2 linked regions of the Homo sapiens genome follow. The protein of the gene in region 2 purifies or fractionates together with the protein of the main gene of each other region. This does not show direct contact. Each region holds a gene or a part of one and is shown on either strand. Other genes may lie near its edges.

Region 1 (3,649 bases), on a different chromosome or scaffold from region 2:
CCGAGATGGCAACGATTCGGGCTCACTCTCTCTACCTCTCATGCTCACAGCCTGTCCCTGGTCCTGGTCCTTCTTCCTTCCCGACATCCCTCGTGCAGACCCTGCCAGCTCCAAGCCCTGGGGACCTTCACTGCCTTTCCCACCAACATCACCATCAGTGCATCCACCATGCCACCCCCAAGTGCTCCTACAATGCCCAGCTGTCCTGTCATTCCCCTGGGAGACATGTGACATCCCCCGCCCTCGCCCCTAGCTCTCTGCGGTTGAGAGGCCGAAGCTCCCTGGACCGGCCTGCCAGGCCCTTAATCCAACTAAGAGGTGCTGGGCCAAGAGCAGGGGACACAGAGAAATCAGAGACGAGGAGCCCCACAGTCTGGCCAGAGGTCAGGCAATGAATAGCCAGCTCTGACAGAGCCTCTGTGCCCCCGTGGAAGCACCAAGGAGAGCATCGTGGGAGCCCAGACCACGGGGCGAGTCTCTGCCAACAGGATCAGGAAAGCAACAGAGAGGAAGTGACTGAATCCAAGAAGCACAGAAAGAAAAAGGCATTCCAGGCAGAGGACGCACCCTGGATGAGGGCGTCTCCTTCCTTTCTCTGACACAGCTTCAGCTCCAGGAAGGTGGGCTCCTTGCTGGCCCCACCTGGAGCTCCTCTGTCCAGCTGTTTATGCACACAGCAACCTGGGCATGCCTCTCCCAAGTGCCTAACCGTGCCAGGTGCTGGGTTCAAAAACCTCCCCCTCAAGAGAGGCTGCCACATGCCTCGTGTTGAGAGACCAATGCCCCAGGAGCTGTGGGATCCCTCCTCCCCAACAGAGCCAAATCCTTTCTTTCAGGGCTTTCAAGTTCCACTCATCCTGGGACCCACTCCTTCCTGATCTTGGCCTCGCTGCTGCCCACGTGTAGAATCAAGTCACTCTCTGACCGCTACGTGTTGTTCTGGGCTTAACCCTTGCTGAGTGGTCGGTTCTGAGAAGGCAGAAATTGCCTCTTGTTTTATGTGTCTTCCTATTCCTCTGTCCAGTCCCCTGTGGACACAGGGTAGGTGCTTAATAAGGATGGAATCTTGGACTGTCTGAAGGACCCTCATTGCTCATTGGTCCCCTGCCCCCGCCCAGCTCCAAACACCAGGTGTGTACCATGAGCCAGGGACCATGCTGTATTTTGTCCCCTCCCATTTCATCCTCATGATGCCTTGAGACAGGCATTGTTACTCTTATCTCCATCTTAGAGATGAGGAAACTGAGGCTCTGGTGACTTGCCCAAGGTCATACAGGTGGAAACACAAAGCTAGTATTTCCACCCAAATCTGTACAACTCCAAAGCTCAGATTCATTTATCAGATGGGCAAAGTGAAGTTCAGAGAGCTTAAATGACCATGAGTCAGTCACTGAGCTGGACTATACACCCAAGCTCCAAACTGCCAGCCCAAGAGATTGTTCCAGAGCCCTACTGGGTCAGACCAGAGCAATCCCACATCCCCACCGCCAAGGAAACATCCAACCAGAGGAATCAACAGAAGGCAGCAAATTGCCAAGCAGTAGGGGCATGAAAGGGCAGGGCCCTCCTCACCGACAATGAGGCCTATCTCGCAACGGGGGTCCTCATAGCCACAGGACATCATGGTCCCCACCGTGTCATTGACAATGGCAACCACATTCAGCTCCACTGCCTGCACACAAAAGGATGCTGCTAGTTGCTGGGCAACGCGGTCGTCACAGCAACCAGCACTGGACCCAGAGGTCTCTACCGCAGAGGGCTCCCCCCTCAGAAAGTAGGAGACTCTTTGCTCCCCTCAAGGCCTGCCACAGCCCCAAAGCACCCCTAGAACAGGCTCCTACCTGTCTGCGAGTGATGGCTTCCCGCAACAGACTCACGACATCTTGGCCCTCGCAGTCTGATGCCTTGAAACCCTTGGTCCAGTTCAGGAGGATGCCCTGGGGTGAGACCGAGAGGAAGTGGCAGGAAGCTGGAGGCCCCTTCAGGCTCACTCTGCCTCTGCAAAACCTGCATCCATCACAAGCCTAGGCTTTCCACCCTCCCCAAGCACAATTCCTTGCCTACTTTGCTGTATGGTTGAAGGCCTTGCCCTCTGCCCGCTCCCTACTCCCCAGGAGGCTTTCGGTGTGCAAAAACCTATTAATAACCATCTAACCTACATTTTCCATTATTAGTTCCAGACAGTCAGAGGGTCTGGCCATTTTAAGACGTGTGCCCGGAAGGAATGGCCCTTTGTAATTGGGTTAGGAATTAACAGAGCTGGTAAAGTGAGTGCTGTGTGTGAGACAGGGGAGGACAGAGAAGGCTCAGAGGCCCAGATGACAGCAGATCCCACCCTTTCAGAAAGAACTCCAAGTTACTCTAGAGGAAGGAATTCTCAGCTTCAGGGATAGAGCCGTGTCAATGGGCGAGTCACTCATGTGTTCCAAATGCAGGGGCAGGAGGAATGGAAAAGCCAGAACCCAGGCCCCTGGGCAGGATGAAGGCTGAGTGCCCAGATTGTGAGAAAAGGGACTTAAACTTAGTGACACGGGGCTCAACTTTACCTGGAAAGGAATGCTGTTTTCTTAGTGTGCGTCCTCTGAGGGAGGGGGCAGGGGGAGCAGGAATTAGTCTACAGCTGTTGGGAGAAAATTACTGCTTTGCTCAGAGGAGGAGCATGGAGGGTAGGTCAGGAAATCTTTGGGGCAGAAGATTTTAGAAATAGTAAGCAACGTTTTCCTCCAATAATATGTCCTTTTATCCCGTTTTTTATTGTCCTAGGCTCATTGTCTCAAAAACAGAAAGCAGAGAATGTGATAGAGTGAGAGAAAGAACCCGTTTGAGAGAGACCAGATGATGAGTAAGAGCCCTGTGTGGGCTGCTCTCCCTAGAGTGGGGAAGGGGAGGCAAAGGGGGAAGTCAGACCCAGGTTGCTGATGACTTCCTGAGACAGGTGTCCTATGCCCTCCCCACTGGGCTGAACCCCTGTTCAGAAGGGATCTGAGAAATCTGAGAACAGAGGAGGCCTCTGCCCTCCTTCCCCAGATAATGCACAGGAAGGTGTCGAGACTCAAGAGAGGAAGTGGCAGAGGCAAGTGCCCAAAGAGCAGGGCCCGGGGCACCTCCCTGAGTTCCCACATCCCTGCAAATTCTGCACAGCAAAGGCTGCTGCAGAGCCAAAGGGGCTCCTGGGGAAGGCAATCCCCACACTGGTTAAGTTTTCACCCCTGAAAATAATGTGGGCCCAACATTTTTTTTTTAAGATGGAGTCTTGCTCTGTTGCCCAGGCTGGAGTGCAATGGCACAATCTCAGCTCACTGCAACCTCTGCCTCCCGGGTTCAAGTGATTCTCCTGCCTCAGCCTCCCGAGTAGCTGGAATTACAGGCACACACTGCCACGCCCGGCTAATTTTTGTATTTTTAGTAGAGATGGGGTTTCAGCATCTTGGCCAGGCTGGTCTTGAAATCCTGATCTCATGATTCACCCGTCTCAGACTCTCAAAGTGCTGGGATTACAAGCGTGAGCCACCGCGCCCAGCCTTCAGCACAGAAATTAAGTTCAGTTACAGAAAATTAATAAGACTATATTTCTTGCCCCCACCCCGCCCCCCGATTTGCACATGGAGTCTCACCTGCTTCTCACATCTTACAAGGAATAATCAAAAGG
Region 2 (3,649 bases):
TAAATAATATCAAGACCATATCCATAAATGATCATATTAAAGGAATTAAACTTCAATCAGAGAAATTCCAAACATTCCTAGAGTCTTATCTCGCATTCTTAATGGTAAGGGTCACAGTTTAAACTTAAACCTTGAAGACGTTTGCTTCAACCTTCCTTTGGATGAAAATATTCCTATTTTCCCTTTCTTTTTCTAGCATATAGATTAGCATGTAAATCTGATGAAAGTTGTTCACTACAGGAACAACTACATTTTTTTTTTTTTTGAGATGGAGTCTTGCTCTGTCACCAGGTTGGAGTGCAGTGGCACAGTCTCAGCTCACTGCAACCTCCACCCCCCGGGTTCAAACCATTCCCTGCCTCAGCCTCCTGAGTAGCTGGGACTACAGGCGAGTGCCATCATGCCCGGCTAAGTTTTTGTATTTTAGTAGAGACAGGGTTTCACTATGTTGGCCAGGATGGTCTTGATCTCCTGACCTCGTGGTCTGCCTGCCTAGGCCTCCCAAAGTGCTAGGATTACAGGCGTGAGTCATTGCACCCTCCCTGTTTTGTTTTTGTGGTTTTTTTTTGTTTTTTTTTTTTGAGACAGGGTCTCACTCTGTCACCCAGGCTAGATGCAATGGCACAATCTCAGCTCACTGCAGCCTCAACCGTCCCAGGCTCAAGTGATCCTCCTACTCCATCCTCCTGAGTAGCTAGAACAATAGGCATGCACCACCACACCCGGCTAATTTTTGTGTTTTGTAGAGACAGGGTTTCACCATGTTGCCCAGGCTGGTCTCAAACTCCTAGGCTCAAGCAATTTGCCCACCTTGGCCTCCCAAAGTCCTGGGATTACAGGCATGAGCCACCGCACCTGGCCAAAAACCGCACTTTATGCGGAAACAGCTAGAAAGCAAATGTAGAGCCTGAAACTCCGCGGAGGAAGATCAGAAATGAATTACAACATCTTTCTACCTCAAGTTCTACATGAGCAAACACTGATTGAGGGAGTCTGCTATTATTGCTTGGAAAGTCTGCCAGATCCCAAAACAGACTGAACCTTTCTTGAATCTGGCTTCAAGAGTTTTTAGTTCCTGAATCATTCATTTTTAGACTCTATGGAAATTGTACCTTGACTAGCAAGAATGAAGGAAAGCAGAGGCATCTGAAGAAAACATCTCACAACAATGGTATTTATCATCCTTGTTTTAGGGGTTAGAAACCAGAAGAGCAAAGATTACTGAGATTTGTCCAAGGTCACATTGCCTGGAAGGGGCAGATCGAAGACTCAATGGGTGGGCCTGACTTGGAAGCCCTTGTTACCGGAACCTGAAAGAAGCTTTAAATACGCAGCCATGTTGATGAATGGAAGGACACCCCAAGGAAATTTGCATCTGAGAACTACTTGAGGACTCTGGATGAAGGTCTGTCTCAAACTCAACTTTTCAGGTTTCTTAATTCAGCATCGCCTCTTTGCCCCTCACCATGATTCTCTTTCTATCGTAGAGGTTCAACCCCTATATCCTCTGTGATTTTCAGTGATGAAGTATCTTCTATCCAGATTTTGTACCCTTTCTCCCAAACTGCTGGTAAATCCTTTGCCCAGTATTTTGTCTTCCTGGAATCCCTTCTTTCTTTCACCCCAACTTGACTTCCTAGAGAAATAAGCAGCACTATTAAAGGTATAGGTAAAACGATGAAAAGTGTCAGAATATCAGTCTTGGCTTTTAAAATTAGGCTGATTCAAGGGTGGGCATGGTGGCTCATGCCTATAATCCCAGCACTTTGGGAGGCCAAGGCAGGTGGATCAAGAGGTTAAGAGTTCGAGACCAGCCTGACCAACATGGTGAAACCTCGTCTCTAATAAAAATACAAAAATTAGCCAGGTATGGTGGTGCTCACCTGTAATCCCAGCTACTCAGGAGGCTGAGGCAGGAGAATCGCTTGAACTGGGGAGGCAGAGGTTGCAGTGAGCCGAGATTGCGCCACTGCACTCCAGCCTGGGTGACAGAGCAAGACTCTGTCTCAAAAAATAAAATAAAATAAAATAAGACTGATTCCAGAAGCCTACTCACTTCCGAGTAAGCAGACTATGGAATTTAAGAGGAACTACCACTTAACACTGAACAGAGGAGTGACCCTAAACAGAAAAACCACCTACCATCTCTGAACTAGGAATGACCCTTAAGAGAGGAACTACCTCCCACTTCTGAATTGGGAACTGCACCATTTTCACTGCACTTCTGCAGTTTCTTCAATGATTTAGTCCTGTTCTTTAAGGCCCACTTATGAGTCATGAAATATTTTGGCTCCAAAAACAACAGGAAGTACCTTAAATCTTGACTAAGGTTGTTAAGATCTGGATTTTTTCCAAGAATCAAGGGGATGAAGAGGAGTACAGAGGTTAAGGTCTTTATAGTTTCAGTACAAGCTTAGGGCACAAGTTAAGCTTAACTCCAAATAGCACTGACTCACACAGCCAAGATGGCAGAAGTGCCAGCTGCATTAAAGAAGAATACTGCTACCTGAGTCTGGGTTTCATTTCCTCTGAAATATTAACTTGGCCTAGGTCTATATAGCTGCTGGGAATGATACACTTGCAAATACTGCATATGTTAAAAACATAAGGATGAGACCTAAGAAGGTACTAGAAAGAGTCAGAAATAGGATTTATCCCTGGGAATCCTCAAAACAAATACATATTTTTCAAAATTAAAAAATTTAAGAAAAGAAATTGGATTCATCTGACTTGTCCAGGTTGTTTCTAAGTAGTTTCAAAAACTGATTTTAAGCACACATCTGCAATCTACAGATGTATACTCGATTTTGGGAACCTGCGTTCTTAAAATAAGTGTGTGTGTGTGTGTCTGTGTGTGTATGTATGTATTTTAATCTCAGTCTAACCAAGGACAAAAGTACTTGTATACAATAAATGCTTGACCAAAAAAGGTTTAAATAAAGCCTTTAAAAATCCCATTTCCTCCTGCCCCAGAGACTGGGCAGTTGAATGGGAGAGAATGCAGGTGAACTGCCTGATAACAGTGCCTGTAACAGGGTAAGTTAAGTTCTGCCATTCAGCCATCATTGCTGAGAGGCAGACTCTGGTGCCGGATGCCTGGGTTTGAAATCTCACTATCTCTGCTACTTACTGTATAGCCTCAAGGCAAGATACTTTACCTCTCTGGAGATAATGGTGTAGCTGAGCTAACACAAATACAGATCTTAGGTAAGTGTTTGGAACATAGTGATACATATATTTACTATTATTATCATATCTGGATTTAGTCCATGAGTTTAATCTAGAATAGCTGCTCCTGGGTAGGTTAGCAAGTTCCCTTCTGACACAAAAACTGGACCTCTCACCTCAAATATACTTTGTGGATAGAAATTATGTTTCTAGCCAATAGGATGGACTCTTTCTGTCTCAAAAGTGGAATGCATGAAGACAGAGGCAAACTGCAGGTTGAGAGTACATTATCTGCTATGCAGTCAGTCACCAGATTAGCTCAGTACTATAAAAGTATGATATGAACTCAGAAATCTAAGTAGATGTTCTTTGCTGCCTGTACCTACCCTTGGGTGGAACAGTCTCTTTAACTATCATCACACTGACCAACACTGCTCCAGCTAGGTCAGTAAATAGTACCTTGCAGTCCTTTATCCCTCAG

The links. The genes of interacting proteins can lie anywhere in the genome.
Region 1: the proteins of NPC2 (region 2) and HK3 purify together in Homo sapiens (affinity purification with mass spectrometry; 2 studies listed by BioGRID and IntAct, with this or other methods). This does not show direct contact.

Annotation. Positions count from the first base shown.
Region 1 is NC_000005.10:176,882,198-176,885,846, forward strand, and holds part of HK3 (hexokinase-3), read right to left. Parts: coding exon of another isoform or gene 3,629-3,649; exon of another isoform or gene 3,614-3,628; intron 2,621-3,613; exon of another isoform or gene 2,547-2,620; intron 1,938-2,546; coding exon 1,842-1,937; intron 1,673-1,841; coding exon 1,573-1,672; intron 1-1,572. UniProt on the Homo sapiens protein: Catalyzes the phosphorylation of hexose, such as D-glucose and D-fructose, to hexose 6-phosphate (D-glucose 6-phosphate and D-fructose 6-phosphate, respectively).
Region 2 is NC_000014.9:74,486,706-74,490,354, forward strand, and holds part of NPC2 (NPC intracellular cholesterol transporter 2 isoform 2 precursor), read right to left. Parts: intron 1-3,649. UniProt on the Homo sapiens protein: Intracellular cholesterol transporter which acts in concert with NPC1 and plays an important role in the egress of cholesterol from the lysosomal compartment.